Linked DNA regions of Homo sapiens: all the other regions are linked to region 2. Evidence: fine-mapped expression QTL. A gene starts in region 2. Each other region holds a variant in brackets. All regions are shown on one strand. Distances are from middle to middle. Region 1 overlaps CHL1 (cell adhesion molecule L1 like). Region 2 holds the start of CHL1 (cell adhesion molecule L1 like). Region 3 overlaps LOC105376921 (a long non-coding RNA gene).

Region 1 (11,248 bases), 87 kb after region 2:
TAGTATAGTTGGAATGATTGAAGGAGCAGAGCAAAAAGCTGAACTGAAACAATGGAGGGAGGAAAGATAGTACCAGAGACAATGAGAGAAGTGGGCAGTGATTGGAAGGGAATCCGAAGTAGGGATTGGGGACTTAAAGGCTGCTTAGACTTGATTAATAAATGCTGTATAAATGAAATGCTGAGACAAGGGATAAAATTGCACTTGAGAAGTCACTTGAAAATGTGTTAATGCCTTTACTTGACAAGCATTTATTTTTTCATCCTGGGTATAAAACCACTGTAGGAAAATGTAGATCATTTTTTCACACTGAGTATTTTTTAACTGCTGATTATGGTTATGTTGTCCTAAAATCAGGTTTCTATTATCTGAAAAGAAAATAAAAAGAAATAAATATAGGTGTGTAAAGATAAGTATTTTGGAGGCATGGATCTTCAGGTGAAGTGTCATGTAATATCTTTGCTAAGTCGGGATAAAAATAAAATTTAAAACTGAAATTCATATTTAAAAAGTTCTTAGTAGAGTCTAGGCATTTTTTTTTTTTTAGTGTACCTAACAGTGATGAAAATTTTGTATCTAAAAGAATGAGGGATTTTGCAAGGGATTTTCAGGAGACTGTGGCACTGTCATGGATGGTAGCTATACCATTTTCTAACAAAGTATGTCAAGAAAATTGAACATCAGTCTTCTTACTAGAAAAGAGAATCTGTGGCAAATTATTTTATTAATAACAGCAAACTGAAGAGCCACAAAATAATTTAGATAAGAATTAAAGTGCTGAATAACTTAGATAAGAATTAAAGTGCTGAATAATTTAGATAAGAATTAAAGTGCTGAAACAATTTTATTACTGGTAAAGCTGAATTCAGAACTGCTTCTGGTAATTTTACTGTATCAAGCAGGCCCTGAGAAAGACAACCTGGAACTGTTTAAAGGGAGATGTTCAACGATGGTCACAAGATGCAGGACTCAAGAGCTTCCACCATTAGAAACTATCACCTTTACTACCACCAACAAAATACCTTTTTCTCTGAGAAGGAGTCAGTGAAGGGTAGAGATGAAATAGGAAAAATTTGGTTGGTTGGGTGGGTAGTAAGTTTAATCATTACTCTTCTTTAATGAGTAATAGAGTGGAAATAACTTTCCTCTCTGGTTTTAAAAGTTAACTAATAGTAAGTGTCTTTGTTAAAACACGTAGACACACACATGCACCACACACACACACACATGCACCACACACACACACACACACACGCACACACAACAACTGTTTGCTACAGGATTTCTAATTAATGATATCACATTTTCTAACCCAGTAATTCCCAACTGGGGTTATTTTTTTCCCCTAGGGGACATCTGACAATGTCTAGATACATTTTTTGGTAGTAATGACTTGTATTACTGGTTTCTCAAGGGTAGAGACCAGTGATTCTCCTAAATTCTCCTACAACACCCAGCATATCTCCTCACAACAAGGAATTATTCAGTTGGAAATTTCAAGGGCCCTCAGGTTGATAAGCCCTGTAATTGCTTGAAGTAACTTAATCTCCCTAGTAATTGTGCAGTATCTCATAGTTATTCCTTCTTCCACTACTACTCCCCACAAATTTGCCCACAAACTTGAGAATTTACATAACTCCAGGAGTACAATAGAAAGGGACCTCACATCCAAGTGCTTGGGTACTGTGCTATCCTCTGGTTCCTTATTTGCCTTCACCACTATGATTTACTATTGGTAAAGTTGTGGTCATGTCGGTTCTCCTGGACTACCAGAGCCCAGAAATCTTCTCTTGTTGATGGTTCACCTCTGTCTTAAAGTCTACTTTGTCTAATGTTAATATAACTACCCCAGATTTGTTTTATTTTTCCAATTTGTACCTTTTTTTTTTTTTTTTTTGAGACAAAGTCCCACTCTGTCGCCCAGGCTGGAATGCAGTGGCACAATCTCAGCTTACTGCAACCTCTGTCTCCTGGGTTCAAGCGATTCTCATGCCTCAGCCCCCCAAATAGCTGGGATTACAGGCACATGCCACCATGACTGGCTAATTTTTGTATTTTTAGTAGAGATGGGGTTTCACCATGTTGGCCAGGCTGGTCATGAACTCCTGGCCTCAAGTGATCTGCTTGCCTTGGCCTCCCAAAGTGCTGGGATTACAGGCGTGAGCCACCATGCCCAGCCTATTTCTTTTTCCTATATTTTTGCTTTTGCTTTGTAAATACCTTTGAATATACAGTTTATCTCTTCTAGATACGACATAATCATATCATTTCAAAAACTATTCTGCTAATCCTTACTTTTTGTTAGTGTTTAATTCATTTATGTCTTATATAATTACTGATAAGGTAGAATTGATGCCTGGTGTTTCTATGTCTTTGCTTTTTTATTCCTTCATATCTGCCTTGTTTTTCATTAAATAAATATTGTCTGGCATGCCATTTTATTACCTTGTTTCTTTTGTTGTAGCTTTAAAACTATTTTCTTAGTATCTGTTCTGGGGAATACAATTAGCATTTTACTAAAATAATCTAGATCAGATAAAAATTAACTTAATAGTATACAGAAACTTTGCTCTAATATGTACCTGTTACTTCTTTCCTCCTTGGCTGTTATTGTCATACAAATTACTTTTATACTGTGTAAGCCCATTAACGTGGTATTATAATTCTTGATTTATGTAGTTGTCTTTTAATCGGATAGAAGAAAAGAGTTACAACAATATTTTAATACTTTCTTTTGTATTTTCCTTTACTAGTGTTCTTTATTTATTTGTATAGATTGAGGTTAACATCTAGTGTTCTTTCATTTTAGCTTGAAGGATCCTTAACATTTTTGGCAGTGCAGGACTGCTAGTAAGAAATTATCTCAGTTTCTGTTTATCCAAGAATGTCTTATTATTATTTTTGTAATTTTCAAAGAATAGTTTTGCTGTGTATAGAATTCTTGGTTGACTGTTTGTGACTGGTTGACTGTCTTTCTCCTTCAGCACATTGAATATGTCATCCCACTGAAAAATGTGAATGGCTTCACAAATTTGCATGTCATCTTTGCCCAAGGACCATAGTAACCTTCCCTGTATCATTCAAGTTTTAGATGGGTCACCAAAGCAAGCACTCTGGATCTTTCCATACTGCAATAGAAATGAGGAAGACTTGGGGGAACTTACTATTTCTCTCCATATAAATCCTGCCTTTGCCACTTTTTATCTGTTTTCTGGACTATACTGTATAGAATACAGGGTCTTTCTAAGAAAACAAAATACTTTGATTTTGTGTCCAGGGATCCAAGTAAAAGCCCTGCTTTTGGGGCATCTGGTGGTTTTCTAACAGCTCCTGCTCTGATTGTTTCCTTGTATTCCAGTTTTCTGCCTAATCACATGCAGAACCATTCCATTCACATAGTGAATACATCTCTCACTTGACACAGGGATCCTCATTTATGGGAAAGAAACACAAACCTTTCATTTGAAAAAGATATTATTATGTTTGCTTTATGCAGTACATAAATAAAACTTGATGATCACTTTCTCATAGCCATTCTCTTCACGAATATCATTAGCATTCAATGCAGAAATTAGCCTGCAGTCTTCCCCTAATGTTTGCATGTATCTTTTTTGTGATCCAACATTTTGCTATTAAATAGAATGAATTATGTGGAGACATGATTAGATAATACCAAGAGTATAAGTTTCCTGAGATTAGCAATCACACATGGTTTATTTTAGTCCTTTGTAGAATGTTGTGACTATCTTTCTATTTATGTACACATGTATCTATGAAGTACTTATTCATCCATCCTTTTATTCATTAGTCTAGCCAGTCAACTATCTATTCATCTATCTGTCTGTCTATCTGTCTCTAACATATCTTTTTCTTCACAGGAATTCAATTTGATGTTAGCATATGATAGTTGTCTAATAAATACATGTTAAATTAAATTCATATGAGGAATACAGACTCTAGTGTAAACTATTGGCATTACTGAAATATGGGCTTGATCATTCATTGTGTGGGTAACTACCCCATGGGTACATACATTGGATGTTTAGAACCATCATCCCCGGCATCTCAATATAAGCCAGTATTATTCTCCCAATTGTAACAACCAAAAATGTCTTCAGATAACATAAAAACATCCGTGGGGGAAAAATCCCTCTCCTCCACCCCAGTTGAGAACAGCTGGTATAAAAGCATCCTTTCCTTCTTTTATCACAGTATGTATGATTAAAATAAATGTTAACAATGACTAATAGTAGGGAATTTATCAGATGAATGAATGCATTTACATATGTATTTTCCAGATAGTCACACTCTCCCTCACTGATTCATCCACCCATTTATTATTCAACAAACACTTACTATGTACCAATTATCCACTAAGTACTTTGCCAGGTAGAGGGGATACATTCGTGAAATGTAAGTTTCTGCCCTGATGGGGCTTACAGACTTTCGGTGGAACTAGATAAAACAACGAAACAAAAGATATTACTAATAAGTGTTTTGTTTACAATAAGGCAGGAAGTTATAAGGGAAAGACAGGGGGGCTGCATGAGATTAGTGGACAAGGAAGGACTTTCTGAGGTGACATTTAAGGTGAGAAATGAATAATAAGAGGAAAACAAACAAAGATGTGAAAAATTTATTCATTAATTTTACTTATTTCTTATAGCATATGAGGTTTATGCTAGGAGTGCAAAAGGATGATCATTTGGTGGCATATCAACTTGCTTCTCTACCCATATTTGTGAAAAACACCAGATTGTTTGTGTGGAAGCCACTGGGAACTGTTCCAAACCGTGTGAGAAGTCTGACGTTTTTTATTGAGGGAGCATAGCCCTACCAATGTAAAGGCGTTGTTTTATGACAATGCCGTGAAAACTGGTAAGACATTGAAAAGCAAAAATGAGACATGCAGACCTTAAAATATCCTGTGTGATAAGAACTAGTGATTGTTCACTGAAAAAGACAAATTTTAGTTCTATCTTCATGACATTATATGTTGCTGGGGAGATGGTGGTGACCAGGGAAAACTGTTCAGAGGAAAATCCTGGCCTGATACATTTAAAAGAAAGCAGGTAAATGCGTATTCATCTTTTTTTTTTTTTCTCCAACCTCAGTAGATCTAAGGACATTAATCAGACCTTGGGATAATTATATATAGCTGTGCTATGAGTACGTGGATTCATTTATAATTCCATTGGTAGTAGATAATGCAATTAAGTACAAAATTCTGCAGAATCTATTATATCGTTGTTTGACGAATCAAATAATGTATTCTGCATTTTTATTCTCATGAATATTTCCCTTATAAATAGATGTCTAAAATGAACTATTTTGCATATGCTTGCCTTATGAAAGTAGGCTTATCCACTGGAAATACAAAGCTGTTTTAAGCATATTTGTGTGTTTAAACATGCTTACGCATGTTTTCAAGCATAATTGAAATAATTAGAATAAGTTTCATTATCACCTTTCA[C/T]CTTTTATGCTAGATGCTGGATCAAGTCAAAACTGGAATTGCAAGTCAAACATCTTGATGAGATACAGAATTCTGTAAAGGGAAGAGATGAATTACAAAATACAACCTTGTTTGAGGAAGACATTATGACAGCTGGGTGACTTGGGCATTTAAATGGAATCTGATGAAGTCCCTCCCACCATTTTCTCTATAAAATGCCAATGGCATTTAAAAGTAGTGTCACCAGAGGAGCCAATGTATATTTTTATACTGCAATTAAGCAATTGAGTACAAAATTCAGTACAGTCAGTGGGAATGTGATCAGATGAATAAAGGAAGTCAGAGAAGATAATCATTTCAGTTCTTTCCCTAATTTTGCTTTCTAGCCTGGTACTTAAAATTCACAGGCTCACAAGTCTCACTGGGCTCCAGAGAAGAAGCCTGACTCCTCCCCAGCTGTGTACTCTCAGGCAAACTACGTAGACTCTACCTCAGTTTACTCAATTTTAAAATTGAGATCATAATTCTTGTCTTCTAGAATATTTGTGAGGATTGAATGAAATACTATGTATAATATGCACATTACATAGCTAATGCTCAATAAATCATAACTTTATGATTAGCAATGTTTGTTTCCCTCAGAAGTGACCTAAAACCAACAACAACAATATTTTTATTTTGCTTTCTATGATCACTGCTAATTATGAAAAAAAAAATGTGCCTGCCTTGATGCTTAGGAAAGAAAAATGGTTGCAATGAGAGAGAAAGCAGTGTTTCCAGACTTGTGATGACTTTATTCAGTTTTCTGCATTTTGTTTCTCTCTGGCAGTTTTTTTTCTCCTGTCACTTTCAAGATTGAACATAATTACAGTAATGAATTATAAATGAACATAATATGTAATGAATATAATACATAAAGTTTATTACCCCCATTTTCATAATTCTGATTCCAAGTTAGAGATCCCCTTCCAAGATAGGCTCCATAGCCTCCTGTGTAAGATGTCTCTGCCCACCCTACCCCAGATAACACCACCCAGTTTGTCTCCTGCAAGGCACTTATCACAACCCTTAATGTTTTTTGTTATTCGCAGGGGGTCCTGATCCATGCCCCAAAAGTGGGTTCTTGGATCTCGCACAAGAAAGAATTTGGGGCAAGTCCATAGAGTAAAGTGAAAGCAAGTTTATTAAGAAAGTAGGGCTGGGCATGGTGGCTCATGCCTGTAATCCCAGCACTTTGGGAGGCCGAAGTGAGTGGATCACCTGAGGTCAGGAGATCAAGACCAGCCTGGCCAACATGGTGAAACCCCATCTCTACTAAAAATACAAAAATTAGCCAGGCATGGTGACGCACCCCTGTAATCCCAGCTACTTGGGAGGCTGAGGCAGGAGAACCACTTGAACTTAGTAGGCGTAGGTTGCAGTGAGCCGAGATTGCGCCATTGCACTCCAGCCTGGGTGACAGAGTGAGACTTTGTCTCAAAAAAAAAAAAAAAAAATTAAACAAAGAAAGTAAAGGAATAAAAGAATGGCTACTCTATAGACAGAACAGAAGCATGAGCTACCCAGTTGCTTATACTTATTGTTACTTATTGATTAATGCTAAACAAGGGGTGGATTATTCATGATTTTCCAGGAAAGCGGTAGGCAATTCCCAGAACTGAGGGTTCTTTCCCTTTTTAGACCATATAAGGTAACTTTCTGACGTTGCCATGGCATTTGTAAACTGTCATGGCACTGGTGGGAGTGTCTTTTAGCGTGCTAATTAGAATATAATGAGCAGTGAGGACCACCAGAGGTCACTTTCATTACCATTTTGGTTTTGGTGGGATTTGGCCAGCTTCTTCACCGCCACCTGTTTTATCAGCAAGGTCTTTATGACCTGTATCTTGTGCCAACCTCCTATCTCATCCTCTGACTTAGAATACCCATCCTTCTGGGAATGCAGCCCAGTAGGTCTCAGCCTTATTTTACCTAACCCCCATTCAAGATGGAGTTGCTCTGGTTCAAACGCCTCTGACATTTTCATTTATACTTTTCACATATGTATCAACATATAATATAAAAATTTAAAATGTCATATATTATATATTAATACATATTATATTTACCATCATTAGAATGTAAATTCTAGTAGGTCAGTGAAGAAATCTGTCTTGTTCACCACTCCCTCTCTAGACAATAGCTCTGTGCCAGGTACATGCAGACACTCAATGTATATTGAATGTTGAAGAACTTTTCCTGCAAACCGTAATTGCCACCTGATAGGTTTACACATTCGATTGTCTTTTCACCTGCTCTTATATAAATTTGTGCTGAGACACGCAAGCCATTTGATGTTGTAGTTATTTTTTACAGTAGAGGTGCTTTGGGAAAGATGATTGAGATACCTCCTTATAATCTTAGAATCCATCCTAAAATGTCTTCTACTCAGATAATAAATGCCAGTCTTTGATTTGATATATTTAACTCTTTAGGTAATATTTACAATACATAGAACTAACTGGATTTAGTAAGATGCTTTAATTTACTGATAGCATGCTACTTATTAGTGTGTGCCTTCAAGCATCAAATATACCAAAAAAATGATCATTTTTGTTATGGTAGCAGATAGATACATTGCTCCACTGGTGTCTTTTTTTGTTTTTTTTTTTGAGATGGAGTCTCACTCTATCATCCAGGGTGGAGTGCAGTGGCACGATCTCAGTTCACTGCAACCTCCGCCTCCCGGGTTGAAGCGATTCTCCTGCCTCAGCCTCCCGAGTAGCTGGGACTACAGGCGTGCGCCATCACGCCAGGCTAAGTTTTTTGTATTTTTAGTAGAGATGGGGTTTTACCCTGTTGGCCAGGCTGGTCTCAAACTCCTGACCTCGGGCAATCTGCCCACCTTAGCCTCCCAAAGTGCTGGGATTACAGGCATGAGCCACTATGACCCGCCTTCACTGGAATTCTTTAGCTAGCCTTATTTTACTTGGATTCTGATTGAAATATGTTCTCCTCAGAATACAGGATGAAACAAAGCTAATTTAAGGTGACCAAGTTTATACATTAAGTACAATTAGTGCATTTTTCACCAGAAAGTTGGTCACTACTTTAAGATTTTACCTTCATTTTCATTAGAAGGTATTGGTTAATCTATTATCTCCTCTCTCTAACTGCAGTCATCATATTAAACTTTTGCAAATTTTAGGTGACAAACACATGTCGAATTTACATATATACAGGCATAATTTACATATATGCATATACAATGTACAATATATCCAGAAGGTAATTAGCAACTGGTTACAGTTTGCTACTAATGTACAATATATCCAGAAGGTAATTAGCAACTGGTTACAGTTTGCTACTAATGAGGTCAAGTTTACAGATCTACTGTTCCTCTGAGTCTGTCTTTTGGCTCTGTTGCATTGCCACAGATCCTATCATGATCCCTGGGCTGCTGTTTCACACACGTTGTTTGTCACAGGAGGGGGGCCATGAAGGAGGATGTGATTGCTCCCCTGCCAACCCCCTACCTCTACTGGTCAAGGATCTCAGCATTTTTCTGACGAATGGCATGGGCGGGATGCGCTCCATCTTTGCATTCTCTATGTGTCAGGCTGTGTCCACAGGGAATTGTCTGTGAAGGGTTTTTAAATCAGTGGGACCAGTAACACCATCTTTATATAGTGAAGACAGCTTATCATTAAATATAGTTTGAGACAAGCTTAATTGTGCAACTGAAAAATATTTTCGATAATATTTACAACTTTTATCTATTTAGTGTTATTAGATGAAGACTTTATCATTTTTTTCCATCATGCCTTTGGTTTTGTGAGCTTCTTTTTTGTTTTTATTTCCCGATTTCTTTCTTTCAGATACTTTTAATCAACATTTCTTCCTTTGGAAAACAGGTCAAATGACAATGCGAAGGGTGATCAAGGAGAAAATGTGTGAAGTAGAAGCCTAGAACTCAAGAGAAATGAATAATATCTTGGCATCACTTACTTTGCTTTAATTTCTTAGTTTTACTCCTTTAATGTAACAACTGTTTTTCATTTAAAAGGGAGTCATGAAACAAACATCTATATAATATTTTGGGGATTAAAAATGCATTTGCAAAGTTAGATTTATTGGTTTTTATCTTAAAGACATAAAAACTTGATATCATATTTAATTTTGTGCTCAAACTTACCGATAACACATTACTTAATCCTTGAAATTATTTGCTTTATTCCCTGTTGTGGATTAAGATGAGTGATTTTATTCTGAAAATATTAGGTTGTTGTAAAAGTAATTGTGGTTTTTGCCATTAATAATTCACAATATGAGAGCAATTATAGAATCTAGCTAAAATTATATGTATTTATCCATCTCTCATTATTCATGGTAGTTATCTTCTATAAAGTCTCTGCAAACACTGAATTAGTAAATACTGAACAATTACTCCTGGTAGGTAAATAAGAGCTTGGTTCCTGCACGACTCTGGCCACATTTTTGTCAATCTATCAATACATAATCTTATTTTATATGTATTTCTGTTTAATGATATCTTATGTAATACATATTGTATGCTCATTAATACATTTATTTAATACATATTGATTTAATACATATCTTATTTAATACATATTTTATGCTCATTAATACATTTATTTAATACATATTGATTTAATACATCTTATTTAATACATATTGTATGCTCATTAATACATTTACTTAATACATATTGATGCTCATGTGCTTTCGAGCATCAAATATACCAAAAAAATGATCATTTTTGTTATGGTAGCACATAGATACATTGCTCCACTGGTATCTTTTTTTTTTTTTTTTTTTTTGAGATGGAGTCTCACTCTATCACCCAGGGTGGAGTGCAGTATACTCACAGTATACTCATAGCCAATAGCACCGTAACTCACCCCTCATTGAAGCTTGTTCAACACAGTTTTTTTCTCTGTAAGGCATGTTATAGCCTCCTTGTGCTTAAGAAAACTAGGGAGCACTTCTGCATTATTTTTAAACAGCAAGTCATTTTAAACAGCAGAATCATAAACAAAAAACATAAAAATGAGAAGAACTAAATAGACCATGAAAAAACCACTTGTTTATAGTAAGAGAACTGAAACATGAAGGCAGAGTTTCACTTTGTTCAACCTCAGCTGGCAACATGTGTAGGGGGTAACTCAAATTTTGTGATTCTCTGCACATGTTGGGGAAAGATCACACAAATATTGTGAGTATTAATTTGGAGTACAAATTAATATTAGCAAATAGCTGTATTTGCAAATATGGAATCTGTGGATAATGAGAACAGACAGTATTTATATTCTAGGTTAGAAAAGAGAAAATGAGCTCCTTTTAGTCATCAGAAGCCAATGAAAGACCTGGGTTTAGTATTTTCTTCCATCTCTTGATTTCTGTTTGCTTAATTGAATGACAAATTCTAATTAGTCATGCCTGACTAACATAATTTAGGATGAAACTATGTCTTCATCACTCTCTACTTCTGACCCTGGCCCTGTTCCTAGAGTACAGTAGGCATTCAGTTAATGCTTGTTGAAAGAATGCATAAACCCCTTTCCTCATTTGGAACTTTATGGAATTGCTGAGAACATCAGATGGCAATAAGGTGATTGGAGCTGTAATCACACACAAAAAGTTGTCTATTTTAATTAGCCAGGTGTGGTGGCACACACCTGTAATCCCAGCTACTTGGGAGGCTGAGGCAGGAGAATTGCTTGAACCCGGGAGACAGAGGTTGTGGTGAGCAGAGAATGTACCACTGCACTCCAGCTTGGGCAATAGAATGAGACT
Region 2 (11,274 bases):
CTACTGTGGGTTAGTCAAAAGGAAAAGGAGAAGTGAATCTAGATGATCTTTAAGTAGATGAGCTGAGAGTTGCCAACAGCATTTTTCCTCATGTCTCTTTGGTGAGAACCTAGTCCTAGAACCAAACTAAGTCAAAAGAGTGACTAGAAAATTTAGTCTTTAGGTTAGCGGCCCTGTGTCCAGAAGGAGAAAAAGAACTAGGCCGGGCGCCATTGGCTCTCGCCTGTAACCCCAGCACTCTGGGAGGCCGAAGCGGGCGGATCACGAGGTCAGGAGACCATGCTGGCTCACATGGTGAAAATCAGTCTCTACCAAAAATACAAGAAGAAATGAGCCGGGCGGGTTGGCGGGCGCCTGTGGTCCCAGCTACTCCCGGGGCCGAGGCGGGAGAATGGCGGGAACCCGGGGGGCGGAGCTTGCGGGGAGCCGAGGTCGCGCCACCGCACTCCAGCCTGGGCGACAGGGCCAGACTCCGTCACATACAACAACAACAAAAACAACAAAAAACAGATTAGTGGGCAGAGGAAGTGGAGAACAACCTGTGGCTGCCACAAGCTCTTGTTGGTCTTTCCTTTTTCTCTAACATGTTTCTGTTACATTGAGTGGAAAACATACTTTCAAAAACAACTGGAAAAAAAAAGAAAAGGAGAAACTTCATTTTGGCTATGTGTCTCTGTAAAAAGATCAGCCTTTATGCTCCTGGTATTACTCGCTATCCCACTATTCGACATTTGTCTTGTTTGCTGCAACAGAATAATAATAAATAAAATTATCTTCAAAGATGGCAGTGACTTTTCATCCTGTAAAATGATACAAGATTAAAAACTTGGAGATTTTTTTCAATATATTCTCGGCCATTAACCAGTTGTACAACTCTGATAAAATTTCTGAACCTTACTCTTTTCAGATATAAAAAGAAGCTATGGAAGATTATGTTTTCTGAGGTCCCTTCCAGACTGAAAAGATTTCGTACCATGTTGGAAATAGAGAGGTTTAGAAGAAATTCTCATCCTCCAGACATATGAGGACTTTCTCCAACAAATAGGAATTCATCCTATAACTCAGTTCACAGGCCTTTGAGATAAGACTTGGGGGCATAGGACTTTGGAGCAAACCATCAATAGGAGAGAAAACTAGTCATTGTAGGCATTGCTGATTGGAGGGTGGGAAATCCTTCTGACCTGCACAAGTAATCAATGGATGCCTTAAAGCATGAGATTTGAAAACACTTAACATTATCTTGGCTACATAATTATAATGTTATTAATGGCCACAAAGTTTCTTAGCCTTTTTAAAAAATCCAGTGAAAGTATTTGATTTCATGACCTCCCAGGGCTGAATTATACATATTAATGATCCATGGCATGCAATACAAGATTTTACCTTTTTAGTTGTTCCAGAATTATTGCCCTTTGATTTTTAATACATATCCTTTTGTTCTTGTATTAAAGGACAAGTTAAAGGAGTAGTGACTCTGTCAGGATAACTCTGCAGAATTAATATGGTCTTTTTAGCTTTATTAATATCAAAGCTGAAGTGGCTGCTTTGTACTTTCAAGGTTGCTTTTGAAGGATCTATTCCTCAGTGGAACATCCTGCTTCCTGCTTTTTATTTTTTATTTTTATTTTTTATTACAGCAGTTGGCCGGAAAGCCCCTGTTGATCTGTGACTATTTGGAACTGCTAGACTGAAATGCCATTTTCAAAACTCCAGCTCTTCTGCTAAACAATTTTTCTAGGAATGATGCCACATCACTAGCTACTTGTATTTGCCAAAAGGCAATACTACTTCAATGGCCCTAGCTCTGGGAATGATACCAAATGATGGTTCAGGAGGGAGGGAGGGAGGCAGTAAATCAGCAGGAAAAGCTGAAAAATGCCCCAGCTTTTAATAGCTTTTATCTTTTTCCAGATGACTGGCCTCTCTCTCACCTTCTGCTTCTATTCATGATAGGGCCCTTTTCTCCCCTATTTTTGTGGCTTGATATTAGTATTTTCATTCGAAACGGCCGTCCTCAATTATCAGAGAGAAAATTCACACCTTTCAAAGCTACGGCAATCACATTTCCATGTGACTCATAAGTATATCTTCTTTCTCTAGCACCTAGGTGCAACTGTGGGATGCCTGATAGATTAGGATTGTATGTTGAATGGGAAATGGGTCTGAACCAAGTGTCAGACAGTAGAATGGGAGCCAGGGGAGGGTTCCAAAGCAGCAGCAGAAGGTATCTCTAGCAAGCATCCGCTCTGGCTGGGGACTGTCTTCTGGTTCCAGCCTTACTGGAAGCTCAGGCTGTAGAGTTGTGAATTCCTGGGGCCAGGCAAGCCTAGATGTGTTGCCTGCTTTTGATAATGTATCAAAAATATGAACTCATCCTTGGAAGCGACAGCTATGAGGTGTTTCTTGGATGTAGAAATTTAGGTCATCTGTCTTCCTTTTGCATTGCCTTAAAAAGTACGATTTCCTTTCTTGGTTTATCATTTGCTGGCCTTCTTTCTTTCCATCCTTCCTCCCTTCCTTCCTTCCTTCCTCCCTTTTTTCCTTCCCTAGACTTTCCCTATCTCCCTCTTTTCTTTCGTAAAATTTGGTTGCCTGGGATAACGTGTATTGCATACAAGCTGACTTCCTTACTGTCCCTAGTAAGCTATGTGTGGCTATTATTTCTTCATTTATATGCAATGCCAGAAGCTTAGAAGAATGTTATCTCCCTTTCAGTTAAAAACTCATAGTTAAGAACTGGCCATCTTCTTGTTTTGGGTATTGTGGCTTGGTACTGTCTAATATATTTGGAGGGTATTTGATTTTTTAAAAAGCTACTGGCCATGCCTATTGAGTTTCCTACTGAGCCCAGCACCCAGACCAGTGATTGATTAAATAGTAGCTGCTCAATAAATATTTGTTTTGTAAATAATGATTCTATTGTCAAGAAACAAATCACCAAGAAAGAAGGAGCTATATATTTAAGAGTACTCTGTTCATCTGGCCAAAATGGAGTTCCGAGTCCCTTGCTCAGCTGATGTTTGTTCACCCAGAAGATGGTAAACTCCTGAGACCAACTTCGCTTTGTTGTTCTCTTGTGGTTCCTTGACCTTGGAAATGTTTTTCTACAGGCAGAGTATTTCCCCCTGTTGGAATTTTATTTAATATTCTATCTTTGTTTCTACTTTAGAAAACATGCCACGTGAATAATGATGCCTCAGGCAAAAGAAATCACTCCAGCAGTACAATTTAAACTTAGGACAAATCCTGCCCTCACTTGCATTCACAATTTGCCAAGGCAGTTGGTAAGAACTGTGCCCACACACAAATTGACAGAATCGAGGCCCCAAGGTTAGCGATGATTAAAATTTAAAAGTCCATTCATTCATTTTCAAAATATTTTATTCGATTGCTTCTGAGGCAGAATCATGAGTTGCCTTCGCTTTTGCTGCTCCCGGTGGTGGCATCCAACTCTGAGGATAGCTCATCCAACTCTGAGGGTAGCTCTGAGGGGAGCTAAATATCCTCATTGTTCAATGAGCTAGATGAAAACAAAACGAGGCTGTAAGGTCAATCTCACAGCCTTAGTGGAGTAAAAATTAGAAGTCAATAATTCTCTTACCAACAAAGAGGACTTGCATTCAACAGGATTTTCAAAAGTGGTATCCTGTAAAAATTTTGGAAAATACCACCATAATGGAAAAAAAATAAAGTGGCATATAAATCAAATGTAGTGCTAAAAATTATAATTTTTCCATATGAATTTTGGAATCCTAAAATATTTTTATGTGTTTGTGGATTCATAAGGCATCAGAACTGGCTTTTTGCACTGAATATGAGTACAGAAGGCTTTCCTCTCCAATAGTGAATTAATAAAGGATAAGTAGGAAAAACGTTACGAAACGATGTGGTAACATTATAGACTCTGTATTAGGGCAAAAATTGTGAGATAGTAGAAGATCTGTAAATTTAAGCATGCACAATTTGACAGCGGATGGTCGTAGCATATTTTGTAAATTCAATAGCAAGCCCCACCACGCCCTTAAATGAAGGAAAGCAAGAAGACAATTTTTAATACGTACATGGCACCACACCCCTCTAAGACGCAGCAATGGGAGAAAAGCAGATTGGCGACCTGTGTGTGCAACATGAACCGAGTGAAACCATCGGGGAGGGGGTGGGGGGCGTTTCTTTTAAATGTCGCTTTTGCAGATAAACGAGCAGGGATCCTACCTCTTTTGACCGGAGATGTTGAAAAGCACGACCAAAGTTTTTGGCTTGGTCTCTTGCTTTCCACAACGAGATAAAGTCTGAAGCCTGTAACTCTCCCTGTCCCGCGGGAGCGTGCAAAGGGAGGGAAGATAAGCGGCGTGGGTGAGGGGTGGCGGCGCAGAACCCAGGAAGGGAGCAGAGGCGAGAGCCAGCCTCCGGCAGGAGGGCGTAGACCCCGGTGCCAGCCAGAACGGCTCCAGCCTTCCCGCGGCCAGAGAGCCAGCGGCGGGAGGGGACGGGCGGGACCTCCGCGGACAGCCCCGGGTGCGGACCAGCGGGCAGCGGCCGGCGAGACCCTCCCTGGATCCGCCCAGAGCTTACCGGACCCTGCGCGCCCCCGTCCCGGCTCCCGGCCGGCTCGGGGGAGAAGGCGCCCGAGGGGAGGCGCCGGACAGATCGCGTTTCGGAGGCGGCGCAGGTGTGTCAGGGGTGGGGGTCCGCTGGCATCTCTCGTGCCGGCGCTGGGGGGGTCTCCCGTGGAGGAAGGGCTGAAGGTGCTCCGGGAGGGGTCCACTCGTTATGGAAAGGAAGCGGGGCGCGGTCAGGGTCCCTCGTCCGCAGTGGGGGTGGTCCGGGCCCCTCAGCCTGCACCCGGGAGGAGACGCCCCCTTTTCACGCCCCGCCCCCGGTGGCCGAGGCCGGATTCGGACAGCTCGGGGTCAGTCGACGGAGCACACCGGGCGCCCGAATCCGCCGGGTCCCACTCACGCCCGCCGGCCGCCGGTAGGTTGGCCCTCCCGCTTCCAGCCTCCGCCACCCCATCCCTCGCTGCTCTCTGAGGAGGATTCCAGACCCCCCCGTAGATCTCCGCCCTCTCTCGGGTGGGGCTCCGAGGTCTAGCTGGTCTGGGGGTCAGTCCCGGCCTCTGTCTCCCACCGCGCCCCTCGCTCCCCTGGACACCGCCTGGTGTGTGGGGCTCAGACCCCCCCAGTCCACTGCCCCTGTGTGGCTCCTCCTCTCAGGAGAGGATTCTAGATCCCAGCCCGGGGGGGGTTCCGAAAATGCCGCCAGCCTGGAGCGGGGAATCCATGGACCGTGGGGTTGTGGGGTTGGGGAGCACGAAAACCCAGAGAGGGGCTAGAGCTCCACCTCCCCAGACCGCCGAGGGGCGAGAGGGCGCGCCGGGGGCCGTGGTTGCCATGGCTCCTGGTAGCGGAGCCCGGGGGGCTGGAGATGCCGGTCGCGGATGGTCCCTTCTTCCTCTTTGTGCCTCTCTCTTTCTCTCGCTTTTTTTTTTTTTTTGGAGTGTGAGTGTGCGTGGGGAGGCAGCACGGAGAAAGTGATTAATTTGGGGAGCAGGGATTGGAGCCGGGAGGCTGGGGAAAGCCAGCCCCTCCGTTCCCACTCTCCGGGCTCGCTGCGAGCCACAGTGTCTCAGCCAGGGGCAGGGCCGGGGAACTCCTGCGAAAAACCACGGGCCGGAGGAGCAGCAGCCGCGCGGGCCCAGGTACCCCCGCCCCAGACGGCCAGCAGGGTGGAGCGCAGGGTGGGCGTTTGGGCTGCTGGGCGGGAAGGCGGGCGGGGAAGGGGTGGGAGGCCGGCGGCGGAGGGCAGGTGTGCGTCGGCAGGGCTGGGTGGCCCGGCAGAGAGGGCGCCCCAGGTTCAGCCCCTCCTCGAAGGGCGCCGGCGTCCAGTCCCGCTCGTGGGAGCCGCGGAGCAGCCCCAGGGCCGGCGAGCGGCTGCCCTGCCAGGCGCGTGCGCGAGGGCGCGCTCCCGCGGGAACGCGCCGTGCGCGGGGAGATTTGCGCGTGCGCGTGGCGATGGTAACTGGTGGGCCCCCCGGGCTCGCTCTAGGCGGAGGCTCCCGGGACGCCCACGTGGCTTCGAATTCCAGCTCCACCATCACTGTGATGCGTCACTCTGGACTAGGCATTTAACTACGTGCCTCAGTTTCCCTTTCTCAATAATACGGAGATTATCGATACCCTCTATACTGGGTTGTTGCAAGACTGGAATGAGATGATACAAGTAATTTAACACCATAGATTTTTAAATTTAACACCATATGCATATTTGATGCATAATAAGCACTCAAAAGTTATTGTCGTTGATGCCATTACTGTTAGTTAATCCTCAGTTTAATTACATATGGTGCATTTTCATTTCTCTGCATTTTCATTGAAGTAAAAATTCTGCGTTTTCTAATTTTGGAGAATAATCTTAATTAAAATATGAATATTTGTACTGCACAGTCCAACTCCTACGAAGCTCTGCCTTGCAGCAGATTGGAAGAGAGAAACTGATCAACTGCCGATGAAGTTGGCTTTTCAGTATATTGATGGAGAGAGAAGCTTAGGAAGCTCTTTGGGGAAACTTTTGGTGACAAGAAAATAAAAAGTTTATCCCAGAGTTTTTCTTTTGTAAATCTTTGTGTTTTCTCTTTCACCTGCAGATGTTGCAGTTGGGTTTGTCTTAATTTCAGTCTCTTTGTGAGGGACCACCATTTGGCTTTCATAATTTAACGTGGTTACAGAGCCTATGTATACCCTGGCTTTCCATTTTATGGCCTTAAGTGCTGCAGTGGATTTACCTTTAGTAATGGCAGAACGTAGTGTATAATCATTCCTTGCAAGCTCCTGAATATTGTGAGCAAATCAATGGAGACAAATAGTTATTACTGGATGGGTGTGAGTACTGGCTATGGCAACTCATTAAAATCTCTTTCAGGGTATGTTTGTACCCACTTCACTGCAGCACAAGACTATGATGATGAATATATGTTTCCCAGATTGTTATCTGTTGCATGTAGACTTACGGATCCTTTTCTTCAAAGAAACGGCTATAGATATTTATTGATTCCTCATGGTTATATAGGTCCTCCAACCTATCTGCTGATAAGTACACTGTACACTTCGTGGGCCTAGCTGTAGGTCTAAGAGGAGTTGATTTTGCACATACTATACTTATTGCATTTAAGTTAATTCATCTCATTACATGAATTGGTTTTAAATAAATTTTTAAAATCATTTGATTATTAAAATATAGGCATTTCTTGGTGAACTTGAGGCAAGTAAAGCCTGACAGATGTCACCATCACAAAGATCCTTAGTGACCTTTACAAAATAGAGCTCACCCAGAAAAACATTTGCTAGATAGAAACCTGATTTTATAGTTGCTTCTGAAATCTTTGAAGATAGGAGGTTATTTGCCCCAAAATTGCTTTGTTGAAATAATTTAGCCTGATTCGCTTTTATAGAAAAATAAGGGTAACGATCAAGACTGATTTAAGATTCTTGTATTTTTAACCGATAAAAGAAAATTAAGTAATAGTTGGGGAACTACTGGTGTCAGATTTGAAGGAATGATTGTCAGGAAATACTGAGAGTATTACTTCAGGTAGCAGTGTTTGGCTTTGCAAGACAACCCTCTCATCCTCACTGTGAATATGTCATCTTTAAAAGGTACCTTGAGGAATTAGTGTGACAGCTTCTCTGAAATTCATGTGATCATTTACATATTGTTTCCCAGGAGCTTTGGCATTAAATGTTTCATTTATTGGAAATTATTTTGCCCTTTAATTTATGACAGCCAACAGTGCAATAGAGTCTAATGTATTTTAGAAACAATAAAATTAGCTTTTCACCATTTTCTATTTTCCCTAAAAATCTAGCAGCAATGCACTTGGAATGCTTAAGTTAGTCCAGAGACAAATGGTAAGAGTAGGAAAACATGACAGATTGGGAGGTGTTGAGTTCTGAATTTGGGGACCTAATTGAAATGCAAAGGTATAATCAAGAGAATGAACTTGTCTCTGTACTGAGGTTGTTTTCAGTGATGTACTATATTATCTGATTCAGTCAACGTTCCTTGTTATTTTTTCAAACCAAGATTGAGAATACTATATTTTCAATTATGAACATTTTGATTACAGTTTCATTCTGACTAATTCAGTCGGAAGAGAATGCAATTATTATGGTCATTTACATACAATATGCTAAGTTAACACAGCTAATGAGTGAAAGCATAATATTCTTTCTGTTTGTTCCTGGAAAAATATTGTGCTAAGCATTCTTTCAAAGAAAGATTACATTATTCGCTATCATTTTATGTCTATCTACAAGTAGAATTGGCATTGAGCCTTTTCTCTGCTATTAAAGTGAAATCTCTTATATTTTGGTGATCACATGCCTTTCCTCTCACCCCTTGGGGGAGACTGGAAACAATTCTCAATTTAATTAGATATGCTGCTTTCTTTTTTCTGTACATCTTTATCTGAGGAAAGATTGTATTTTCTAATTTGGGAGGCTGCTTAACACCTTAAACATTACTAATTACTGCAGTTTATTTTATGTGTGTCGCAATAGTGTAGTTAGTTAATTATAGCTTTCTCATTAGCACCACGTAGAGAATAATGAATTAACACATCCCTTTGATCAAAAAGGATTTAAGTTTATCTTCTGAGAATAAAAGTGTTATTGTGTTACTGAAAGTCACTATAATTTTCCCAAGAAACAAATTGGTTGGAATTCTGTATCACTGGGTTAGGAAGCTCAATGAATGAGTTGGATTGATCACAAAGTAGAGTAGAGCTGTGGTTGCTTGGCAACCTGACATTATTCTGCCATTTCTGGTATATTTATCCAGTAAACTAGAAAATTCTGTTTCGTTAACGAATGTTTTAAGTCAGTGCACAAATAGACCATAACTAATTGAGATTTTATGTGTTGTGGGTAAAAAATGATCCTGCTTACCTTCTCATTGTGTTTAGATCATAAAAATACAAAGGGACATATTCCGTTTTCAATTTTAAGGCATTTTCCTGAAATGTTGACTTCACTTTCACATAATTTATTCCTAGTGAAGAATACAACTTGTGTATCTCTTTGGAAGTTAAATTATTAGAAGTGTGTGTGAGTGTATATGTGTATGTGTGTGTGCGTGTGTGTGATGCTTATATACATAATTTCAATAAGAATCACAACTAGAGTTTGAGGTGAGATGAATTCTCAAAATTCATAGTTTGCTAATTGAACTGACAGTTTGGTACATTTAGGGTGGGTATAAATATCTGAATCAAATGATGCTGGCAGATGATGATAAGAATGATAAATGCATTGAACTTGGTCAATATATAATTATATTTTATGCTTTGACCAGGGTTTCTTCTCCTGGTAGTCTTATAACATTCTCCCTTCTAATGTTTGTTTGCATCTTATTTCCCCTATAGTTGTGGAGGTAGGAGCTCTGTTGCCCATCTTCTGATTCACCTCTTCCTAACTCCAGGGACTACAATTGTGCCATTTTCCTATACAACCTATGAATTTTAGTGTGCATCACAATTTCCTTTTCAGACTGTAAACTCCTTGAGGGTATACATTTCCTTTTATGCATCTCATAAACTCTTAAAGTGTCTGGCACAGCAGGAAGCGAACTGTTGTGGTGGTTACATGCACTGGCTATAAAAGTCAGGCTGCCAGGGTTCAAAATCTAAGTCTGTCAGCTTGCAGGTGTGTGGCATTGGCTTAGTCATGTTGACCTCTCTAAGACTAGTTTCTTCTTTAGAAACGGGGAAATAGCCATACTTAGCTCACATGTCACATGTGTTCTTGTGGACATTGTATGGGGCAATCTATGCAGACAGATTAGTAGCACGGTTTTTTATTGTAGTGATAATTATCCTTCTATATCATGTTCAGTATGTGAATGAACAAAGATAGAGGGACAGAGCGTATGTGTGTGTGTATCCCTGTGTATGTGAATAACTGTGAGCCATGATCAATGGTGGTGTCAAATGGCAAACTGTTGATTCCTACATTAATTATATGCACATATACCAATAATGATTGCTTCACATATTTAAAAGGTTTTCGCAATAGTTGTTCTTAGGCTTGGCTGAAATTAGAATCGTCTGGAGAGTTCTGTAAAGCTACCAACCCAAATCAATTCAATTACAGTCTCTGTGGATGGTGACTAGAAATCTGGATTTTTGAAAACTTCTAGTGCGATTCTAACACGCCCTAATGTACCAATATTGGTTAAGAACCATCACCTTAGATTTGCGTACGCCGTCCACAAGATTGTGTTGGGCTAAGGCATTGGTTCACAGTCACCCTGGTGTCATGAAATGTGGCTGAAAGAGAAAAAATGCTCTGGCAAACTTCTGAGGTTTTTCTTACTAATCTTCTTGGTTTAAATAGCACTTTATTCTCTGAAGATCTCAAATGTGCTTTTCATTTACTGTGTATAATTTCGTTTTTCAACCAAATGTCTCTGTGAAGATGGTAGGAAAGAAGTAATTATCCTGATTTGCAGATGAATGTGAATGGAGTGAGCTACACTGAAATTAAGTGATTTGACTAGATTCATACATTTAGAACAGGCCCAGATAACAAGATTCCTGTGACTTTGGGGTTTTGAATATTTCTCTGTTTTGCCTGCAGACTTCCAATGAGGTAGGGAGAGTTATTGTTTTTGGACTAAAGTACTGTGTCAGAAAAAGCTTTAAAAATGAGACTTTCATCCTTTTTTTGGTTATAATTGTGCAGTGTAAAGAAAAACAGATTTTTATTTTCTTTCTAAGAAGAGGCACCATAGTCTATATAGGAGCCAAACCAATGTCCCTTGGACTTTGAACACCGCTTGTATAAATATTTCATTTGGCCCAAAGAATGTTTAAGACAAATTTCAGCCAACATTTAAATACTGGAGATTTCATGTAAAATTCATATTTCTGGCTTATCTTAAAAGGATTGATGTTCTCACAGTATTGGACCTGAATGCCCAGGTGGCAGAATGCCACAGGTTAGAACCCAGTGGTTTGTCCCCTTGATGTTCTTGAAAGACATATCTTCGCTGGGTAAAACATGGCTTCCTCTCACCTTCACTTTGTTCCTTTCTTTTATATAGATCCTACTCCAAAGAGGTAATTAAGGGACCTTAAAGACGGGCCCACATCTCTTTGGATGGGATTAGGGGAAGCCCACAAGGGCTGCTGAAGCACATCTGGAGCTGTTACTGCCCCTTGTCCTGAAGGGATAATGGGAAGGTGAAGTTCCTGGAAGGAGGTGGGAGCAGTAGCTCTGG
Region 3 (11,274 bases), 130 kb before region 2:
TTTGGTTGCATTCAGCATCCAAAGAGAATCTTTGATAAATCATTATCTTGTCCTTGGGTCTATTCATTCACTTTCCTCTCTCCAATGAAGAGGATATTTAAGCATCAATCATCTGGCCCTTTTTTGAGTTTTTAATATTTTTTTGTGTGACTCCTATGCACATAATAAATTTGTTATGCTTGTCTCTTATCAAGCTCTCTTTTGTTACGGGGAGTTTTGGCCATGACCCTTTATGAGGAGAAAAGGGATCACCCCCTTTTTGCGTCTACAACCTTATAGAGATGTTGTAAGGGTTATATGAGACAGTTTACATAAAGTATTTAGTACCTTGCCTAGCACATAGTTAGTGCTCAACTAAGGCGAGTTATTATTACTATTAGCAGTAGTGTCATAGAGGAGACAATTTAGAATTTGTTGTTAGAGAGAACTGAATTTGTATCTTGGATTTTCCATCTATGTATTTCCGTTACCTCTTCAGCCTTGCTGGTATATTGCTACTTGTTTTGTAGTGTTATTTTATATGCTTGTGTGTGTCTGTGTAATATATACAGGGAGAAGAGAGAGAGAAACATATTAATATTGAATAACTGCTGGGAATTTCTTGTCTCACACTTAAAATGATAATCCAGTTTACATGCACATAATACATGGATGCAGATTTGTTGATCAGATTAATATTATAAGAAGCTAAAATAGGAAACAACCTAAATACTGAAAAATAAAAAATTATTTAAATTGGTGTTAATATACCTGTGTAACAAAAAGTTACACAACCATTAAAATTATGTTTAGGAGGAATATGTAATCTGAAAAATCTTAGATTTTTAAGTAAAGAAAAGAAAACAGGCTACAGGGTAGGTTGTGTATCATAACCCCAAAGTAGAAGAAAAGTGTACAAATAGATGTGGATGAATATATACAATAGGAAACATTCAGAATGAAAGGTTAACAGTGGTTATTTCTGCAAGTTACCATTACCAGCAGTCTTTATTTTCTATGTTCACTTATGTGTTTGTGTGATTTGTATATCACATTAACATAGTTTATGTTTGAAACACTACTACTAATAATAATGATAACTAATAGGTGTTATTTTATAAAGTAAAACAAAAACTCAGTGGTTTGGAGAAAAAGAAATTACCTAATTACCTCCCTCTTCAATCCAGTCCTTGAGTCCTACTCCAATCAGACAAACCCACACACAAACACATAGCCTGTCATCCATCACCTCCATCTGCTTCTCCTTTTCTGTCTGCTCAGCCACATGCTTCTACTGAAGACTGTGTCTATGCCAATTTTCCAAAGCTTCTTCCGTCTCGGGCCATTGCTGATACTTGACCTTTTACTTTCCAATCTGTTCTGTCCATCACCAGTGTTTAATATTTCTATCATGTGCATTTAAATGATTATTAGCGTTCTCTTTCAGGAAAGAACCCCATCTTCTCTCATTTGTCTTACTCGAAGGTGACGCACAGAAAACTTGATACCAAGTTGTTGCTTCATGAGCACTCAGGATTGGCCAGCTTCATTTCATGATCTGTCTAGGTTCCTTGCTCTAAATCTTTCACCGGATCAGAAACATGAAACAAAGTGGTGCTTTAAGTTGCACAGTCTCCCCCTTATTGCTTGAATTTAACGCTGCCGTCACACAACAATGAATCTTTCACCTGGAGGTGTGGTGGTGAGTGAGTTCTCACTCTTAGTTCCCGTAAGAGCCTGTTGTTAAAAAGATCCCGTCACCTCTCCATGATCTCTCTTGCTTCCTCTCTCAGCGTGTGATCTCTGCACATGCCAGCTTCCCTTCACCTTCCACTCTGAGTGGAAGAAGCCTGAGCCTTTCACGCGATGCCCAGTCTTCCAGCCAGCAGAATTGTGAGCCAAATAGTTTTTTCTTTATAAATCATTCAGTCTCAGGTATTCCTTTATAGCAACACAAAATAAATTTAGACAATTCCTCTCTGATTTTTAACTTCTTCATCTATAAAATGGAGATAATAACACATTCTTTAAGGTATCTTTTTAAAGCCTAAATGAAATAATACTTAAAATGCTTAGCAGAATGTCTGACATAAAACAGGATATTATTGATTATTAATTGTTATAGTAGGCAGTGAGGTGGCCCCCACAAAAAGATATGTCCATATTCTAATCCCCAGGTTTTGTAACCATTATCTTACACGGCAAAAGAATAACTATTTGTCTTATAGGGCAAAAGATGTTATTAATCTAAGGACCTTGAGAGGTGGAGCTATCCTGGATTATCCTAGTGCAAGGTAAATGTGATCACATCCATCCTTATCACAGAGAGGTGGAAGAAATTTAGACACAGACACACAAAGAAGAAGAAGATAGACAGAAGAAGAGTGGGTGATGTGAGACATAGACAGAGATTGAAGTGATGGGCCCACAAGCTAAGGAATTGCTACAGCCACCAGAAGCTGGAAGAGGCAAAGAACAAATTATCTCCATGAGGTTTCAGAGGGAGCACAGCCCTTCTGACACTGATTTCAACTCAGTGAAACTGATTTCAGATTTCTGACCTCTAGAATTTGGGGAATATAAATTTATGTTCTTTTAAGCCACCAGACATGTGGTACTTTGTTACGGTGGTAATAGAAAACTGATACAGATTTTATTTTGTTTTGCTTTGTTTTGAGACAGGGTCTCATTCTGCCACCCAGACTGGAGTGCAATGGCAAGATCATGTCTCACTGCAGCCTCGACGGCCTGGGCTCAAGCAATCCTTCTACCTCAGCCTCTCAAGTAGTTGGGATAGTACCTGACAGTAGCCACCAGGTCTGGCTAATTTTTTATTTTTTTGTAGAGACAGTGTTTTGGCATGTTACCCAGGCTGGTCTCGAACTCCTGGACTCAAGTGATCCTCCCACCTCAGCTTCCCAAAGTGCTGAGACTAGAGGCATGAGCCACCAGGCCAGGTTCAGGTTTTTTATATTTGTTGTAATAAATTTCTAAAAATGTAGAAGTGGCTTTGCAATTGCATAGTGATAGAAGCTGGAAGAATATGAGGAAGCATGATAACAAAGGACTACACTTCTTTGAACAGACTATTTGTAGAAATATGGACATTGAAGGAGATTCTGGTGAGAGCTCAGAACAAAGTGAGGAACAAGGTAGGGAAGTCTTCTATAGTTTTAGAGAATACATGTGTTGTCATAGAAAGAATATTGGTAGAAATATGAATGTTAGAAGCACGGCAGAAGAGGGTTCAGCACCAGGAATAAGCAGCATGTTATTGGAAACTGGAGGAAAAGGGATCCTTATTATATACTGGCAGAAAAGTTGGCTTAATTGTGTCCTACAATTTTTGTGTCAAAAGCAGGATTTATAAGCAATGAACTTGGATATTTAGCTAAGGAGATGACCAGGTCTGCTGTCAAAAAGTGCAACCTGGTTTCTTCTTGATGCTTATTGTAGAATGCAAGAGGGAATAAATGGATTGAGGAAGGAACTGTTAAGCAGAAAGAAATGATGATTTAATAATTTTGGAAATTTACAACCTATCAGGATTAAAAAGAAACCTAACTAATATTGAGACTAAGGATCACCGTTAGAAAAAAGAAATGCTCTTGAGAGAAAGCCAAAGTTGTGGCTGGACAGGAATTTAATAATTGCAGATGTGTGACTTCTGAACTCACTCAACCGTCTCAACAGAAGCTAAGAAGAGTTGGGTTTATCCAGGAAAGGCCTACGGAGTATGCTGTTGTTTAATTATATGAGTCCCTGTGACAAACATGGGAGACCCACAAGGTTTTGGGGAATATTGTATCAGCAGAAACACTGCCAGACTGGCCTGAAAGGGACATACATGGGACATAATGAAGGCAGACTGTCAGACTTCTGGGATTTTATAGGCAGAAAATGGGCTGATAGAACTAGTTGGCTACAAACATGTATTATCATTCAAAAAAAAGAGAAGAATGACTCTGAGTGCAGAGCCTTGGGTACAGAGGGCAAAGCTCCAGACCCAGAGATCATAGCTTCAAGCAACAGAAAATAATTGTCAGGTCTTGAAACCTAAGGAAATTTTCCTTGCTGGATTTTGAACTGGCTTGGCATCAGTGACCACTTTGTATCTTCCATTGTCTCCCTTAAAATGGCAGTGTTTATAACTATTAACTACACTTGCCCATCATTGTATTTTGGAGGCAGATAACTTTTTTTTTCGAGGTTCTCATGTCCACAGATGGAGAGGGATTTTGGTGTCCTATCTATTGGCCCTGTCAAGTTAATATATAAAACTAACAATCACACATGTATCCTTCAAAGCGAAAGGAAAAGGGAGTCAGAGATAGACACAAAACGGAGGACATACACAGAGAAGGCAATATGAAGAGAGCAGCAAAGATTGGAATGATGCAACTACAAGCCAAGGAATGCTGAGGGTTGATGGTGCCTACCAGAAGTTAAAAGATAGGCATGCAGCAGATTCTCCCTTACAGTTTTGGAGGAAGTGTGACCTTGCCAACACTTTGAGTTTGGACTTCTGGCCTTCATAATTATGAGAAAATACATTTCTGTTGTTTTACGCCTCCAGGTTTGTAGTAATTTGTTACAGCAACCTAGAAAACAAATACAGTTCTCTTAGCTCTTGGTAATCCCCAGAAAGTAGAATAGGCATTAGCCCAGAGTAAGCATAAAATGTTACTGATAATGTTATGTCCTGATTTATAGTTCATTTCTGAGGATATTGTGTGTGCTCAGTAAATGTTTTTTGACTTGAATAAAAGTCCCAAAATGTGCAAATAGGTGTCACGGACATCTCTAAAATAGCCTCAAAGAACATTTCTAAAATGTCCCCCTCCTCCTCCCTGTCTTCTAAACACTCATTTCAAGTAAACACTGCTTCGAAAGCAAGTTTAAAATGCAGCTTGATTGATGGCTCATCAGCAGCAAACAATCACATTCAAAGCCGCATATTTACATGGTCAATACACAAATTAAACATGAGATTTCCCTGAAGTCACTCTATAAACTTGTTAGATC[A/G]AAAGTCACTTATGCACTTCATTTCGGGGAAGGAGGTCACCCAGCCTGCAGAACACAGATTATTCATGGCATGAAGAAATTCTTTGTTTCGCAGGGTTAGGCTTGGATCAGAATTGCGGTAAACCTCTTGGCTAGTAGCAGAATATTGACTAAAGCTCTGTCTTCCACCAGTGCAGAGGAGAAAGCCCTGTCAAAACCCACAAGAAATCTTTTTCTTGTTTCTAATCATCTCAAACACTGCTGAATACTTTATCTCTCACAGGAGCAGACTTCTTTGTTCTCACAGTTACGAAATGAAGGGGAGGGTGAGGGCAATCTGTTCTCAGCCAGAAGCAAATGAGGTTTTGCAAGATAACCAGGGGCATAGAGACTTCTCCCATACCTGGTAAAACATTGTGTCTAGGGATGCCCCACCCCAGGCATGTTGCCTTCCTCTGGACCTGTGCCAAGATCCCGAACAAACCTAAATGGGAAACTCAAAACCAAGCAGAGAAAATAACTGAAATCCAGGAGGAGTTGGTTTATGAAGCCCAATTAGATAGCCTGAATATTGCATTCAAAAGGTGACTAAGTCAAGACTTGAAAAACATCAGCATAAGTCAGAAGGATGTGAGTGGTAAAACTGGCAAGGAGTAGACAAAATGCAATGGGAATAGTCAATGCATAGAGAACATATTTTTTAAAAAGAGATTAAATGGCAGTGTAAAGAAAATCTTACTCTTGGTAAAACCTCAGTATCTCTCTTTTTTAGGATTGTATTTTTGGGTTGCTAGCTTCAGGTTAAAATATATAGAAAATACTGTAGTATTATGAAGGCCATACTACCAAATTTTTAGGAAATATTCTATGCTAGGTATTACATTAAATATTTTGTTAATCTCTAACATCCCTACAAGATGAAGTCAGATAAAGATAGAAATTAAGACTGAAAGATTAAAGGACTTGTTTCACATCATACAGTTCATAATTGCTGGAGCAAAGATAAGAATTCAGGTCTACATCTTTCCATTAGATCATGCTACTCTTTAGTCAAACTCTCTAAACTACTCTTCACCAACAATTAACGTTTTCTCTGTAATATCATCAGTAGGCGAATGAGACTTGTTACCAGCACTCTATTCAAATGTATGTGGGGTGAAATAATAAAGCACTTGAATTAAGGGAGATTTTATTCAATGTTTTAGGAGAGATTCTCTCAGCATCTAGTATCCCTAGTTACCCCCTTCAGCTTCCTGAGGAGGATTATTTCTCCTTGTCTCTACAGGCCTAAAGAAAGGTAAATCAGATGTATTAAAAGTGCCTTTTCAACTTATGAGAATCTGCAGTATGCTTAGTTCTTTGCTGGGACACTGTTACAAAAGGAATAAATGAATTACTGAAGTCTCTGCTCTCAGGAATTTATCATGAAGAGGGACAGAGTGGAACTTCACAAAATTATTAGGAAGTGCAACACAAAAGTCAGTTTAGGTCAGAGCCTTCCCTCATTCTGATTCCACATTCTATTGCTTTGAACATGTTCATTTGTCCGATCTGGAGACTAACTGTTTCTTATACTCTGATGGTCCCCTTGGGTTTACACCGGTTTCCACTTTTTCTGCTCTAGTAGTAACGTCTCCTTGTTAGGCATTAGGGCTTTTGCAGAATCCTTTACAATATGACAGAATAACATGAGTCAATTATTTATAGTTAAGGTGCATTGAAAACATATATTTCAAAATGAACATGGTGCAGAACTTGCTGGATATAGGGAATGAAGAGAACTAAGAGGTTTGCAAAGAAGTTTTGGGTGAGGAATTGAGAAAGAAATGAGAGCTGTGAGAGGATGATAGGTTAGAAGAAAAAGGGAAAAGAAGATTTTACAAAGTGTTAATTTAAATTTTAAATGAACAGTTTTCCTTTTCTGAGAAATGCAAGTTAATGGATGTGCTGCAGTTTGCACTACTTCTGGCTCCTGGGCTGAGTGAATGTCACTAGGATTCTCCTCAGAAACTCTACTACATGGGTGCCAGCTTACATTCAGGTTACATGTATGTAGCACTGTCTATGTGGAAGCACCATTCTAGGCACTAAGTATACAATAGTGATCAAGGTTGGTGATATGGTTTAGCTGCTTCCCCACCCAAATCTCACATTGAATTGTAGCTCCCATAATGCCCACATGTCATGAGAGGGACCTGGTGGTAGCAATTGAATCATGGGGCAGGTTTTTCCCATGCTGTTCTCATGATACTGTATAAGTCTTATGAGATCTGATGGTTTTGTAAAGGGCAGTTGCCCTGCACACACTGTCTTGCCTGCCACCACGTAAGATGTACCTCTGCTCTTCCTTCACCTTCCACCATGATGGTGAGGCCTCCCCAGCCATGTGGAACTCTGAGTCCATTAAACCTCTTTTCTTTATAAATTACCAAGTTTTGGGTATTTATTCATAGTAGTATAAAAATAGACTAACACAGCTGGCATAGTCTCCAGCCCCAAAAGAATTCAAATTCCAGTGAAAAGGCAATGACAGAAATTATCACCATAGTAGGACTATAATTTGTGAGGACGTATGATGCTTTCTAAATATGGCACCGTTTATTCCTCAGACCAATCTTGTGAGATTAGTGTTATCAATTCTGTCTGATAGTGAAAGAATTCAACTCAGAGAGTCCAGGTTCTGTTCAGTGGAGATGCATATAATGAACAGCTGAGCTGGGATTCAAAACATAGATCTGTCTGAGTCCAAAAGCCTTCATCTTGGCAGTGGAATATAGTCAATGGCTAAGAGACAAGAAACAATGGAGAGCTTAGAACTAACCCTTTGGAGATGCTAACATTCCTGGGTTTGGAGAGGAAATGCTGGTCAGGGGCTAAATAAGGCACTCAGGATGTCAGAAAGATGTGGGACAAAATAATGCAAGGTGGTATAATATTTCTGAAAGCTGAAGAATTGACATTATCTAATAATAGGGAAAAACTCAGGATGTAGTCAAGAATCCTTTATTTTTGGAAATCCTAATATTGAAAGCATAGATTTCAGGTGGATGTTGAAGTCTCCAATGGCCACCAAAACTGCAGGGCTCTAAAAAGGTGTTAGGTTTTGAGAAAAACTTAAATGTGACGCAGACCTTTTATTCAGCAAAAAAAAAAAAAAGTTGTTGCAAAGGTAATCACTAAAATGGACAGGCATTTTAAAATATTAAAACAATGAGGTTTGTTGACAGGTATCTAATAGAGGAAAGAAAAAGCCAGTTGAGATGGCAATATTGAAAACGGCCACCTGGCACACAACTTCGGGGGGTGCCATTCATCTTGAGCTCTGTTTCAAGGCATGTGTTACTCATAGATCACAATACGAATGGTGCCCTCTAGAGCTGTGCAACGCGCATCTGTGCAACGATGTTGCTGTGAGAGGGAGTAATGTCTCATAAAAATCAACATGAAAGAATAGGAAAAACATAGTCTTGGTATTTAGAAATGTTACTGTGTGCCCTTGCGTACTTCATTTTATTACCTGGACCTCAATATATATAAAATTGAAAGACCGGACTGGGTGAATTGTATTAAGAGCACTAGGAACATAAATTCAAATTTGTGCTGTATTTACAAACCTCTTTTCACAATCACAATTACATTTAATATAATAAAATGAATGATGGCATGTTATTATATTCATCTTATTATTCTCATTTTTATTCTTTTTAATTTTTTTTTTTTTTGAAAAATAGAGACAGGGTTTTGCTATGTTGCCCAGGCTGGTTTCAAACTCCTGGCTTTAAGCAGTCCTCTCACCTGGGCCTCCCACAGTGTTAGGATTACAGGTGTAAAGCCACAATACCCAGCCCATCTTGTTATTTTCATAATAAATAAGCTTTTAGTTTTTAACCTGAAGTTCAGTAAGTTCAGCCAACTTGTCTGTGATCAGACAACTAGGGACTACTGGTGGCCAAAATAAAAATTCCTAATGGCAAACCCTATGTAGAAGGGGATGATGTCTAGGAAAGAGATGGAGGATTGGTGATGCATTCACATTCTTCTTATGATCTATTTGCAGATGTCTTCTACGAACATTTGTTTCCCAAACCAGAGAAACCCTTATTCACTCATTAACCATTGGGATTTTTGTTCAAAGGCCCATGAATTATTGCTACTTTAAATTTGCAAGCAAATTTATAATTGGATCCTGATGTCCCAGCACCCATAAATATTTTATAATAATTGTACAAACAACACTTACATTAAGGTTAGTGTAAAAGCCTTAGTAAAACTGTCAAAGCAATTTAAACAGAAAAATATGATTAAGGTGTACTTTTTACTTTTTTCCCAATAAATATAACTTGTTTTATGATATTCCAGGACATGAACGATTAAAATAGGGAGACCCCCATCTCTACCAAAAAATAGGAAGAAGAAGAAGAAGAAGAAGAAGAAGAAGAAGAAGAAGAAGAAGAAGAAGAAGAGGAAGAACAAGGAAGAGGAGGAGGAGGAAGGGAGGAAGAAAAGAAAAAATATTAGCCCGTGGTGGTGGCACACACCTATAGTCCCAGCTATTTGGGACGCTGAGGCCAGAAGACCCCTTGAGGCCAGGAGTTTGAGGCTGCAGTGAGCCATGATTATGCTACTGTGCTCCAGCCTGTGAGACAGAGTGATATCTTATGTCAAAATAAATAAATAAGTATTGGTGAAAATATAATAGGATAAAATTGCAAGCCATAGGAAATGGAAGTCTAGCACTTACAGAGGTAAGCAATCTTATTTAGTTGAAAAAGCAGCAGTACTTAGCGCCACCATACCTAACTATGAATTGCTGCCAGGTCCCTTTAACGTCTGTGGGTTTTGGAACCAGTGATTTAACCTCTGTGTGGCTCCATGTCCTCAGACCTGAATTGGAGGTCATACCTATCTCACTAAACTGTGTGACAATTTAGTACAGTAAGTATGTGAAGTGCCTGATAGAGCATGACAAATGGTGGTATCTGAATTGAGAGTAGTCATGTTCATTAATACTAAAAGTTTTACAGGACATTTTTAAACTGTGTATTCATCTATTATGTTTCAAGTGATGTTTAATTTAAGACTTTTCAGTTTGACGTTATTGCAACAGAGACATGTTTCCCATATGACCACATATATTCCTCCCTAAGTGTTATATGTTGCAGACTATTCTTGTAAAAATATGAGACAGTTAATTTAAATTCATATCATTGATTATGTATATGGAGACAAGGTTTATTAAAATTGGCTGGTTGACTTGATTATATCAATTTGTATTTAGGGATCTATGGTCGATAAATTAGATCTGCGATTTCTTCCTTTCCTGAGTTTCACAGGCTTTGATCAATAATTTAGAAGCAGCTTTCTTTTAAAAGACATACGCTCAACATAAGCTTAACTGAACGACATGGATGTTAATAAAACTTTTCTGGCTTTCCAAGCCGTGATTTTATTTAAAACTGAATGGACATAAATCCCCTCTCATTTGCCAAATATAATTTAATCATGCGATATGTTATGGTTATTAAACGTTATATATTAGAGTGGGGATGATCTGGGCGTGAATCCTAGCCTTACTATTTACTGGTGTGTGTCCTGACACAAGTTTGTCAGCTTCTCCAAGCTTCTGTCTGTTCATTGGTTTAATGGGCATAATAATACTTAACTCAGAACTTTGTCTGAATAATTAAATAAAGTATATATATATGTAAAGTTATATATATATGTATTTGAGACAGGGTCTCACTCTGTCACCCATGGAGTGCAGTGGTGCAATCACAGCTCACTGCAGCCTCCACCTCCCCAGGCTCAAGTGATTCTCCCACCTCAGCCTCCTGAGTAGCTGGGACTAGAGGTGTGTGCCACCATGCCCAACTAATTTTTTTTTTTTTTTTGTAGAGATGGGGTTTTGCCATGTTGGCCAGGCTGGTCTCGAACTTCTGGGCTCATGGAATCTGCCCACCTAGGCCTCCCAGAATGCTGGGATTACAGGCATGAGTCACTGTGCTCGGCCAAACTATCATTCTATTTTTTTTAAAAAATCATATTATCTATCATGTAGTAAAGCCTCAATAATTGTTACTTTCATTATGGATATTATTATTTGTATTGTTTCATGAGTTTGAAATATTTACCAAATGTCTTTAGAAAACTTCTGAAAATAAAAGCCTTCCAGGAAATTATTTTTATTTTCTAGTTAATAAAATTTTATGTTTGAGGATTTTTTAAGGTAAATAAAATAAAAACAGTTATTAGTTTCTTTTTTTTTTTTTTGGCTTAGAACTCTTCAAAAAA

What was found. PIP is the estimated chance that this variant, and not a neighbour inherited with it, causes the effect. A credible set is the group of variants that fine-mapping cannot tell apart.
Region 1: its variant is the best candidate, but not a certain one, in a credible set for the expression of CHL1 in unexposed skin (GTEx, PIP 0.73).
Region 3: its variant is the best candidate, but not a certain one, in a credible set for the expression of CHL1 in unexposed skin (GTEx, PIP 0.67).

Annotation. Positions count from the first base shown.
Region 1 is chr3:279,681-290,928 of GRCh38, forward strand. The region is part of intron 2 of CHL1 (cell adhesion molecule L1 like); the gene reads left to right. It also overlaps the pseudogene RNU6-1194P. Among named protein-coding and RNA genes, the nearest start is that of CHL1-AS2, 88 kb to the left of the region's middle. The variant C/T (reference allele first, on the strand shown) is at 5,474.
Region 2 is chr3:192,395-203,668 of GRCh38, forward strand. It overlaps CHL1 (cell adhesion molecule L1 like), which reads left to right and starts at 4,369. Exons shown (of 28, transcript NM_006614.4): 1 at 4,369-4,669. It overlaps CHL1-AS2 (CHL1 antisense RNA 2), which reads right to left and starts at 4,947. Exons shown (of 4, transcript NR_144487.1): 1 at 4,573-4,947; 2 at 4,062-4,114; 3 at 3,602-3,646; 4 at 3,364-3,520.
Region 3 is chr3:58,285-69,558 of GRCh38, forward strand. LOC105376921 (a long non-coding RNA gene) reads left to right here. Exons shown (of 3, transcript XR_940533.2): 2 at 9,041-9,229; 3 at 9,343-9,433. It overlaps LOC107986040 (a long non-coding RNA gene), which reads left to right and starts at 9,601. Exons shown (of 2, transcript XR_001740550.1): 1 at 9,601-9,728. The variant A/G (reference allele first, on the strand shown) is at 5,005.